Homo sapiens: one gene and its partners. The protein of the gene in region 2 purifies or fractionates together with the protein of the main gene of each other region. This does not show direct contact. Each region holds a gene or a part of one and is shown on either strand. Other genes may lie near its edges.

What was found.
Region 1: the proteins of NR2F6 (region 2) and GPM6A purify together in Homo sapiens (affinity purification with mass spectrometry; one large-scale study listed by BioGRID and IntAct). This does not show direct contact.
Region 3: the proteins of NR2F6 (region 2) and INPP5A purify together in Homo sapiens (affinity purification with mass spectrometry; one large-scale study listed by BioGRID and IntAct). This does not show direct contact.

Annotation. Positions count from the first base shown.
Region 1 is NC_000004.12:175,700,765-175,704,264, reverse strand, and holds part of GPM6A (neuronal membrane glycoprotein M6-a), read left to right. Parts: intron 1-2,497; coding exon 2,498-2,690; intron 2,691-3,500. UniProt on the Homo sapiens protein: Involved in neuronal differentiation, including differentiation and migration of neuronal stem cells. Plays a role in neuronal plasticity and is involved in neurite and filopodia outgrowth, filopodia motility and probably synapse formation.
Region 2 is NC_000019.10:17,243,120-17,247,151, forward strand, and holds the start of NR2F6 (nuclear receptor subfamily 2 group F member 6), read right to left. Parts: upstream 2,801-4,032; 5' UTR 2,102-2,800; coding exon 1,824-2,101; intron 1-1,823. UniProt on the Homo sapiens protein: Transcription factor predominantly involved in transcriptional repression.
Region 3 is NC_000010.11:132,743,787-132,747,286, reverse strand, and holds part of INPP5A (inositol polyphosphate-5-phosphatase A), read right to left. Parts: intron 1-3,500. UniProt on the Homo sapiens protein: Phosphatase that specifically hydrolyzes the 5-phosphate of inositol 1,4,5-trisphosphate to inositol 1,4-bisphosphate, and inositol 1,3,4,5-tetrasphosphate to inositol 1,3,4-trisphosphate. Plays a crucial role in the survival of cerebellar Purkinje cells.

The DNA.
Region 1 (3,500 bases), on a different chromosome or scaffold from region 2:
ACAAACAACAGCTACTGAAGTGGGAAGGTGTTCAGACTCCTTTTTTTAACCTCCTCTGGGGCAGATGGGATGGACTAGAATTGTCAAGAAGGCCAGTTCAGTGAGCAGCATTAAAAATAGCAGACTAGCTCAATCTCTCAATATAAACTTAGTTCTCACAGGAACTTTGCAATTATCACATGCTTCATATGTTGCTATATGCATCTATGCCTTCTAGATAAAGTGCACACAGATCTTCCTATGACTTAAGCACAATAATAATCCATTTTAAAATCTTGTTTGTCATTTGTTTCTGAAGAAAAAGGAAAAGTCATTATCTGAGGGGCTTCAGCATTACAAAGACAGATTTGATCAAGGATTTTCATAAGGAGGAAATCTTTGGAATGAGGATATGTGTGTGTATCTGAGGGGTGGGGTGGCTAGAGGTGGGTACATATGGAACCTAGGTCATCCTTGCAAGTACCCTTAGCCTGTCAGCTCTCTCATCTAAATTCTCCTTTATCAGCTGTGGCTGGCACATAGTGCCTCACCAGTATTTGCTCTTGCAAAACATATATACTTAAGCATTTCTAGTTAATTTCTTAGAAGATATCTAGCAATAGCCTAGGAAATTGTGACCTTTATTTTGAATATTTACCATCATTTTCTGATGTCTCAGTTTAAATGCTTAAAGCTGTGTTTTAATAAGTAAAAGTGATGAGACTTCAAAAACCAAAAGTGACCATGATGGCCAAAGAATTTTTGACAACCACATGACAGCACAGTAATAGTTCATATGAATAATAGTTAAATTAGGCTGGGCGTGGTGGCTCATGCTTATAATCCCAGCACTTTGGGAGGCTAGGGTGGATGGATCACTTGAGGTCAAGGTTTGAGATCAGCCTGGCCAACATGGCAAAACCCCGTCTCTACTAAAAATACAAAAAATAGCCAGGTGTGGTGACGTGCGCCAGTAGTCCCAGCTACTCGGGAGGCTGAGGCAGGAGAATCACTTAAACCCAGGAGGCAGAGGTTGCAGTGAGCCGAGATCGCACTACTGTAGTCCAGCCTGGGTGACAGAGTGAGACTCCATCTTCCACCCACCCCCAAAAGTAATAATAGTTAGGTTACATCTAATAATGACAGATAACATGTAGTGAGTAGTTACTCTATGTCAAGCACTATTTTTTTATATTAACTCATTTAATGCTCATGAGAACCATATGAGAGATTATCTTATTGTCACATTTTTAAAGACAATAAGCTCAAAAGAATAAATTTGGCAAAAACCACACAGGGATTGGTGTGTCCAATGTGCTCTCATTTGCTGTGCCAGTGTCTTTCTCATTTTTTCAAACCATGAATGATAGCAAGAAGTAGATTTTCATTATGAGTCACCACTCAAATATCATATAGGAGTACTGAAGTCAAAAGAGTCAAAAATAATTTCCCTTACTACATAACATGAATTCAGATATTGTCTCTTCCAGTCTCTGTCACTTTTAATATTTGCTGGTCAAAGTTCACTGAGTTTTGAGGTCAAGAGTTCGAGACCAGCCTGACCAATATGGTGAAACCCTGTCTCTACTAAAAATACAAAAAAATTAATGGGGCACGGAGGTGTGTGCCTGTAGCTCTAGCTACTTGGGAGGCTAAGGCAGGAGAATCTCTTGAACTCGGGAGGCAGAGATTGCAGTGAGCCGAGATTGTTCCGCTGCACTCCAACCTGGGCAACAGAGCCAGACTCTGTCTCAATAAAGGAAAGAAAACAGTTCACTAGGTTAACTTCACAACATACTAACAGGCTTCAACTTACTGTCTGAAAAATTGGTTAATGGGTACAAAAACACACTTACGTAAAAAGAATAAGTTCTAGTATTCGATAGCATAGTAGGGAAATTATAGTTAAAAATAGTCTATTGTATATTTCAAAATAGCTAGAAGAGAAGAATCTTAATGTTCCGACACAAAGAAAACATAAATATTTTAGGCGGTGGATATCCCAATTACCCCGATTTTATCCTCATACATTATAAACATGTATCCAAATATCTCCTGGATCCCCAAAACTTGTATAACTATGACACATCAATAAAAATATCTGTTACAAAAAAAGAAAAATGCAGATACACAGAGTGCAAAAGAATAAATACCATTGAAATAAAACCATAAGCATGTGACATTTGGGAGCAATAAATTCAAGATGGAATGATATGCATGCATGTATGGTGAAGATTAATTATTATAGAAAGTCTGGGTTGGGAAGGAAGGGCTTCTCTAGGTTTTGCGGTAGATGAGGAAGACATCAGTCATGGCAAACATTCTCTTATTTGTGGAGGATGGGTTTATAATTAAGGAATTTGATCTTAGTATCCTTCAATGCACTCTAGGACTTCATTTGTATGGTTGACCTGGTATTGTCAGTGCAAATATACTTTCCCATAGTGCTGAAGTTTGAAAAAAAAAATTAAATTAGGTTAACAAAAATATGAATTTCTCCCTTTGTGATCTTCTACAGGGTGTTTTGAATGCTGTATCAAATGCCTGGGGGGCATTCCCTATGCCTCTCTGATTGCCACCATCCTGCTCTATGCGGGTGTTGCCCTGTTCTGTGGCTGCGGTCATGAAGCGCTTTCTGGAACTGTCAACATTCTGCAAACCTACTTTGAGATGGCAAGAACTGCTGGAGACACACTGGATGTTTTTACCATGTAAGTCACTCTAGTATTTCTTGTTATTTTCCATGTATATATTTACACTTCTATGTGTTAAATGATTAGGGGCCTACAGTTAGATGAGGTGATAATATATATGAAACAGCACTTTTAGGGTATACCTGATTCAAAAGGGTAATCATGATTCATGATTGCCTTCACAGTCAATAGAAGGCACGTAGCACAGGATCAGAGGCCGACTTAATCAGGACTTAACCAATGCTTTAAATGTAAAGTTGTATTCGAAATTTGGTTACCATTAAGTGGAATTCTGGGACTTCCCTTGCTCTTCTCATTTGAACAGAGGCTGTTCTATTAGAATAGTGCCAGGTACAAATCTGGCCCTTGCTACTAATTTTAGGAAAATCAGCAAAGCTCCATGGGTGCTCCCACCTTTAAAAGAAATAAACTCAGCCCTGGGTATGGTATCTTACTGTTGCTGTTACATTTACAGAAATGATGTAAATATTGTGCAAAGTTCTTATTGTCTTCTGTAAAAGAGTAAATCATAAGAAATCAAGCAACCTTTTTTTTCAAACACCAATTATACTTTTCTCTCATAAAATGTAAAACTCCTAAGATCACTATGATTATGTTAAAATAACTTTTTTAGAAAAGTAACTTAAACAGTCTGAAAATTAAAGTTTGCTGTTGAAATTTCAGCTCCTTATTGCATAATATAGAGAACAAAGGTTTGGGATTGAATTCTAGAAACGTTTATTGCTAAATAAGTTACTAATTCAGATAATTTATTCAGTGATTTTTATGCCCATGAAAAGAAAATAATTTATTAGTTTGTTTGTAATC
Region 2 (4,032 bases):
TCCCTGTGGCCTTTCTTCCACCTGCCAACTCCATGCTTCAAGGCTCATGTCCCCTAGCCTCCTCCAGGCAGCCCTCTCTGACCTCCAGGCAGAGCCTCTGCTCTCTCCCTGGGACCCCAGATCCCACAGACTTGGGGCATCTGTCTCACTGTGTCTCCTCCAGACTGGGGGCTTCTCAGGAGCTAGACTTGGAGCTGGGGTCTCTCTGGAGGGGCTGGCATCAAACTACCCAGGCTGGGCCCCAGCGAGACCCTGCTCAATCCATTTGAAGCTCAGAATGGAATGGTGATTTCACCAGGTCACACAACTGACACAGCACAAACCTGTCAGCTCCAAGCAAGGCCCCCCCCACCCAAAATTGCTGCTCCCTGACACCACCCTCAGGAAGCTCCTGGGACCCCAAAACTGCCTGAGCCCCCCTCCCTTACCCTCCCTAAAGATATGACCAGAGAGCAGGCGGTTTTCCAGCAGCAAGAATGAGGCCAAAGTCTAGTGGCCCACTTTGTGCTGGAGGAGGGAGCAAGGCAGCTCTGCCACACATGGCCACACCAGGCCAGCCCTGACCCGGGACCTGGGGCCAAACTCCACCCTCGGGTACCTGGGGCCCTATTTGGTGGCCTCAGCCAACAAGCCTTCCATCAGCCGTTCTCCCTGGGGCCACTCCGATCCGAACTCAGCGGTCCCCACCCTAGCCCCACAGTTCCCCCACAGTGCCCCCAACTCGGGCAGCGTCCCTCCATGTCCAACGCAAAGCAGGCACCAGGACCTCTCTCTGGGCCTTTGGGCCTCTGTTTTGGGCAGCTGGGAACTGAGACCGTCTAGACGGGCTCCACAGAGACCCTGCATGTTCCTGGGGTGCAGAGTAGGGGCTTATAAACGGACAGATCGGATGCTCGCCCGGGAACGGTGAGAAAAGAACTCCCGGGCTGGACAACCCCGATCGCTTTCCCTGGGGACCTTCCGCCAGAACAGCTAGCAAGGCCACGCCCTGCCAGAGAGGTCTCCGACCTGGGACAGCCCAAGGCTCCTGCTCGGAAACGTTTCACTCCCTGCCCGTCTCAGAGACACCCAAAGTTTGAGGGATTTTTCCAGGAGCCCCAGGTCTGCACCCACCCCTGGGGGAGAGGGACGTTTCAGTCAATTCCGGTGGCCCTGCCGGCCTTCCAGTGGCGATTTCCGGTGACCCAAGGCCCAGAGTGAGCCCAGAGGGGTTCCCTGAGATGGGCAAGCCCAGCTCCCACCCCCACCCCCACCGCTGGGCCCCTCATGCGAAGAAGGCCGCCCCGTGCCACCCCAGCCTCCCTCCGTCTGCCGCCTCCGTAGCCACAGCGACTTTGGAAGTGATATTTGACCCCAAGGGCGCGCCGTATCGATCCGCGCGGCCGCAGACAATGGCCCCTGGACGCTGCGAGCTCCACGGTCCAAGTTCCACGTTCGATTCCCTCGAGGGCATCCCGCGCGCCGGGATCCCCGAGAACGGGTGCCCTGGGGTTGGGTTACCACCCCTGACAGCACCCCTACCCCCACCCCAGCGCGGAGATGACCCCTCCCCAGAGAAAAAGCGGAGGGAAGGAGAAGCAAGTAACTGGGGCAAAAGCCTCCAGGGACCACCTGATGGGGGGGGAACCTGCAACGATGTAGCGCCGACTGTATACACAATCCCAGCCATGGAATGCGGGAGGAGGGTGCTGTGCCCCTATCTCAGAGGGGGCAGTGGAGGCCCAGGGAAGGTCAGCGCCAGGCCCAAGGTGACCGAGCAGGTCAGAGGCCTGCCCCAGGTCGGGGCGGGGTGCACGGCGGCGGCGCGCGGATGGGGGGCTCACCGGCAGGTGTAGCTGAGGTTGCGGCGGATGCTTCGCTTGAAAAAGCTCTTGCAGCCCTCGCAGGTGAAGACACCGTAATGCTTGCCGCTCGACTTGTCCCCGCACACCACGCAGTCCACCTGCAGCCCCGGCCGCTCCTCGTCGCCCGGCTCGGCGTCGCTGGCGGCACCGGGGGGCGAGGCCGAGTCGTCCTCGGCCGCGCGCGGGTAGCCGCCCGCCTTGTCCACGCCGTTCGTGTCGCCGCCGGGGCCGCCCCAGCCGCCGGTCACCATGGCCATAGCCCCAGGGCAGCGGGGCCGGGGCGCCCCCACCGCGCTCTTCCCTCCGGGCACCCCTCTCGGCCCGGGGGACCCTACGCGGCGCGCATTCGGCCCCGGCGCGCGGGGGGCACGGGCTGCACCCCCCAAAAAAGTTTTGCAGCAACTTCCTGCGGCCGGTCCTCGCGCCCGGGCGGAACTGGTCGGGCCGGTTCCAGGCCAACTTTCCCACGCGTGCGCGGGGCCGGGCCCGGGGCCGGGAGGGGCACGCTAGAGGCGCGGGCCGGGGGCCCAGAGGACTCGCGTCCCGCCGCCCTGGGGCCCCGGCGGGGGCGCGCGGGCCATGGCCCGGCCCGAGCCGCGCAGGGGGCGTCCTCTGGCCTGGCCGCCGCTCGCCCGGGGGCTGCGGCCAACTCAGCGGGCCGCCATCCGAGCGCGGGAGGCCGGGGGGAAAGTTTGGCCGCAAGTTGCGCGGCCGCCCGTGGCGGGGGGGGAGGGGCGGCGGGTGCGCGCCGGGGCTGATCGCCGCGCCCCCTGGGTCCCCCGGCGCCCGCGGCTGCCGCTCCGGGCCTGCAGGGCCGCTGGGCCGGCGCCTCTGGAGCTGCCGCCCCCGCTGCGGCCGCTCCTGCCTGGCCTGGGCCTGCGCCTGGGCCCAAGCCTCGCTCTCGCCGCCGCCACCGCCACCGACCCCGCGCGCCGGCCTCGCGCTGCGGCCGGTTTGACACACAGCGTTCCATTCGCGGGGCGGGCGGGGGGCGGGGGCGGGGGCAGGGGCGCGCGCCGCGGGCTGGGGGCGGGCGCTCGTTGCCCCGGCGACGGCCGCCCTTATAAGGGCATGGGTGGCCGCGCGCGGCGCCGGGCGAACGGGCCGGCGGGAGGGACGGGGGCCGAGCGCTGGGCCGCGGGGCCTGACCCTCCCCCGCCTCCCTCTGCCCCTCCCCCCGCACCCCCGCCCTCGCCCTCGCCCAGCTCGGGCCTTAACCCCTGCCGGGCCGCGGCGGGAGCCTCAGCCGCGCCTGCCCTCTGCCCTTCCTTGAGCCTCGCCAAGATGTCTCTCCAAGGCCCTCCCCTCCACCTCTGGCCTTGGACGTTGGGTCGCTCGATCACCCTCGAGGCGCCCCTCGGAACCTCTCCCCACCCCACAGTTCCTGGCAAAGCAATGATGGGGGGCCAGTGGCACCCGGGGGGGGGGTACGCCCCTGCGCAAGACACACGCGCGCGCGAGACAGACAGACACACACACACACACACACACACACACACACACACACACCCTAGATTGTGTTTGCTTCCTCTTCCAGAAAGTCGCCGCGTCTGACCCCCACCCCACCCTTTCTCTGCTCGGGTTAACACCTGGTGCCCGGAATCTCCAGGGGGAAGGGATGTTGTGGTCTGAGACCGGCTGGCCGGGGCCGCGAGGTCAGGGGGCCCCTCTGCAGAATTTCTGGCCTCCGGGGGCAGGGCGCCCACCCGCCCCGCGCGGCTGGAGGCGACAGGCATGCCCTGTCTGGGGGCCTGCCCCTTTTTCCCTTTTAATTTCCTTTTCTTTCTGTGCTTTGCAGAAAGGGCTTGGCCTGGCGGCCGGCTGGACTGCAGATGTCTCTTCCAGGCGCCCTGGAGCCTCGCAGCTGCCGCCACCTCCAACTCACCCCATCCCCCAGTACCGGGGCTGGGGCCCGCCCGACCAGCATTTATTAAGCACCCTTTGTATGCGAGGCCCGGGCTGGCGAGCCTCTGGCTCTGGGCAGGTTAACCTTTAACCGGCTGGACAAGCCCTTCCAGGAGTGACCTTTCACCTCGGAGTCTTGCAGCCCCAGCCACCCAGACTGTGGTCCCACCCCGCCCTGAGCCCAGAGCTGGACACCAGAGCATGCAGCTGGGCCTCTGAGAGCTCTGGCCAGGACAGTGCCTTCTGCGCACCCCCTCCTCTGCCTCCCAGAGCCCTGATGAGA
Region 3 (3,500 bases), on a different chromosome or scaffold from region 2:
AGCGTGAGGATTAGAACAAGCACCCAAACAGCCACACAGCGGGGCCACCCTGCCCACCCCTGTGTCCCAAGGAGGTCCGGCCCCATCCAGATGCTAATGGGCTTAAGTGGCTTAAGCTGCTTTCCCTGAATGGGAGAAGGCTTGGCAGGCAGACGGCCATTGTAGCCATCCCAGGACGCGGCTCAGGAAATTCACGGCTCTGTCTCCCAAAAGGCATCTGCGGGAAACTGTTTAAAAACTGCTTTATCTCAGCACTTCAGGCAGGCTCCCAAAGGACAAACATCTGATGGACCCCAGAGCCCAGGAAGGGGCCGGCCACCCCAAACCCCTCCCCAGAGCTGCCTCATTCACAGGCTGTAAAGGAGTGATCAGGCCAGGCTGAAGGGGCCAAAGCTGGCCTGTTCCCTTTGCCTTTCAATCCAGCAAAGTCGTGGCCACTCATGCGGAAAGTGGCCAGGCTGGGCCTTTCCGGCTCGCCTACTTTGGGAAGGGATTCTTCTCTTTTGAAAGGAGAAACAAATACCCTAAATGCTATGTTTAAAAAGCCATCTAAGATGTATTTCATTATTAGCAGCCGCAAGGAGAGGCTCTGGAAAGAGTGGTCCGGTGTGCCGTCTTATCCACACTTAGAATTTAACGGGAACGCTGTGTGCCAGGGTCATCCACACGCGTGTGGATCACGAAGTTCCTGCATTTCTTCTTACTGTTTGGATAACCAAGGAGGCATGCTGCCTGGACAGGGCGTCCACAGGCCCAGGGCACAGGTGTCAGCCCAGGAGAAAGGCTGTTTTCTGTGCAAGGAAATAACGCAGTCATTCGGATGTGCACGGAGCTGCATGGCAGGCAGAGTCGCCCCAATGTGCACCTGTGCAGTTGGTCTCACGTTGGGAGCTGAATCTGTCCCATCACCCCCTCAACTGTCCCGGACACTCTGCCACAAAATCCAAAACTCTACTAAAGGCAAACACATCCTCTCAGACCCTGTCAGCCCAAGTTTTTAAATGCAACCTTCAAGAGCTGGTTTATAAAAACAAAAAGTTGTTCTGTACTCTCTGAAATGAATCCTCGCTGGCTGTAGCCTCCAGGCACCGCACGCACAGCCAGCAGGCGCCTGGGCTCCACTCTCTACCTGGAATCACCAGGTGTCCAGAGCGCCCTGCCTGGGCCAAGTGGACACACAGCCTCGGGGGCCCACTCAGGGCTCCGAAGAAGCCATCTGGGCACACGTGCAGGCAACGCCGAGGCCCTACCCCAGGCTTGGCTTCTAGGTCCTGCCAAGGCGTCTCAGGGTAGGCAGGGTAGGCGAGGCTGGGTGGGCAGCATGTGTTGCTCTTGTGGCTGAGCTGGGAGCTCTCACGCACCCGCCTGTTCTCCAGGACACACTCCTCCTCGGGGGCCACCACACCCGGGCCCACCACACCCGAGGCCACCATGGCCGGGCCCACCATGCCCAGGCCCACCATACCCAGGGCCACCACACCCGAGGCCACCACGCCAGAAGCCCACCATGCCCGGGCCCACCATACCCAAGGCCACCACAGCTGAGGCCCACCACGCCCGAAGCCCACCACGCCTGGGCCCACCACACCCGAGGCCACCATGCCTGAAGCCCACCATGCCCAGGGCCACCACACCCGAGGCCACCACGCCCGAGGCCCACCACACCCAGGGTCTGACACACTGTGGGCCCACCACACCCGAGGCCCGGGCTGGGGCCAGTGCCAGCCGTGACATGCCTCACATGAGGAGGAAGGTCCCAGCAGGGCCCAGCACAGATGCTGCCCGGACTCGGGAAGGGAAAGCTGGGATCCCAGGGGTGCAGCTCAGGCACTGGAAAAGCAATCAGGCTCGAAGGCTGGGAGATGCCCCTCCTGCCACACGGAGAGTCCAGTTCCCTGGTTACTCCCTGGTGGTCAACACACTCCCAGGCAGACAAGGGAATCCGTTAGTCACTGGGGCCACAAACCTCCTTCCTAGGGCCAGAGCCTGGCAACAGGGACAGCCCCAGCCCTCACCTTCCCAAAGGGGAGGTGTCCCCAGGAGCATCGTGGCCTCCAGGAGCTCGCGAGGGGATGGAGGACCCCGTCCTCTGTGGCAGGCAGGCAGAACCACCTGCCCCAAGATCAAAGGCTGACAGGCCATAGCGCCCTCCCACCACGTCACCCTGTGTCCCCAGGCCCTCCCAGAACCGCCCAAGCTCGCCTGGAGCAGAGGCAAATGCACCTCTGTGGCCTCCTGAGCCAGCCACTGGCTCGGGCACACCCTGTCCCCAAGCCTGTGCCACGGGAGAGGCGGGCAGCCCGGGCCTCGCAAGCTGCCAGGGGCTGCACCGCCGGGCCCAGGACAGCACTTTCGGGAGGGACAACGGTGCCGTGGTCTGTGGCGGCATGTCTAACATGGCGGCTGCACAAAGTGAGGCTGAGGTTGAATCCTAACCTTCCTCAGTGGATAGAAATCAGTCAGCCCTGCAGGTCGCCTCAGGCTCAGGGACAGCCCGGCCTCATGAAGCCTGGGAATCCCAACAACTTCTTCCTCTCCTTGAGAGCCGTGTCCTCTGTCTCACCTCAATGCAGGGAGTAAAAGGGCGTTCACAGTTAAATAAAATAAAAACGAACCACAAAGCCAACGTTGCCCCCGAATCTAGAAACACCACAGGCAGCTACTAAGGGGCAGATTCTAGTGCGTTCTTAAGGAATGAAACCATCATCAAGGAAATAAGGCTTTTTTCCTCCAAACTGAGACCCCCTAAAGGAGCCGGTATTGAAACTCCCCCATCTGCCCGACACCTACGGGCATATCCCACCATGAACGGGATGTCCGCTGACACCGATTCCATAGACACAGGGACCGGTGGAGCCGCAGTGTCCCACCCTCCCGGGGGTCCTGGAATTCCTGATCTGGCCATTGCCTCGGTGACAGCGGCCGCTCTGCTGCGGGAGCAGGGCCTCCTGGGAGGCCTGTGGGTGGTGGGGGATGGCTCACATGCTGGCCCCAGGACCAGGCCAGTTTCTACATACTCAGCTGCTGAGTCAATCCGTGGGGGGCTCAACTAACTTTTCTCATCCAACCAGAAGAAAAACCACCTTAAAGCAGAAAGCAACAAAATGAGCCTGCTCCTTGAGGCTACGACTCCCAGCCCCTCAGCAGGCACAGAAGCTCTGTGGGTGCACCTGTTTCCCTGGTGGTGTCTGGCAGCTTGGCCAGAGCCGGCCACTCCTCCACCTCTGTGGGGGCCCGTCCAGCCTGGCCCTTAAGTGTCGCAAGACACAGACCTGCAGGTGCAAATCCGCTGTGGCTGGAGTTCTTTCTCATAACAAAAACTTCCTCTGTTCCAAGGATGGAATTCGGGACCACACGCTCAGCCATGGTCTGTCTGCGCCAGAGTGAATGCACTAAAACCAGGAGGCTCAGATGTGGCCCCAGCCTGCCTGTCTGAGCCCCGGGGCCGGCCTTGGAGGGTGTCCTCAGCACACGTGTGCACCCCAGTCCTCATCACAGGT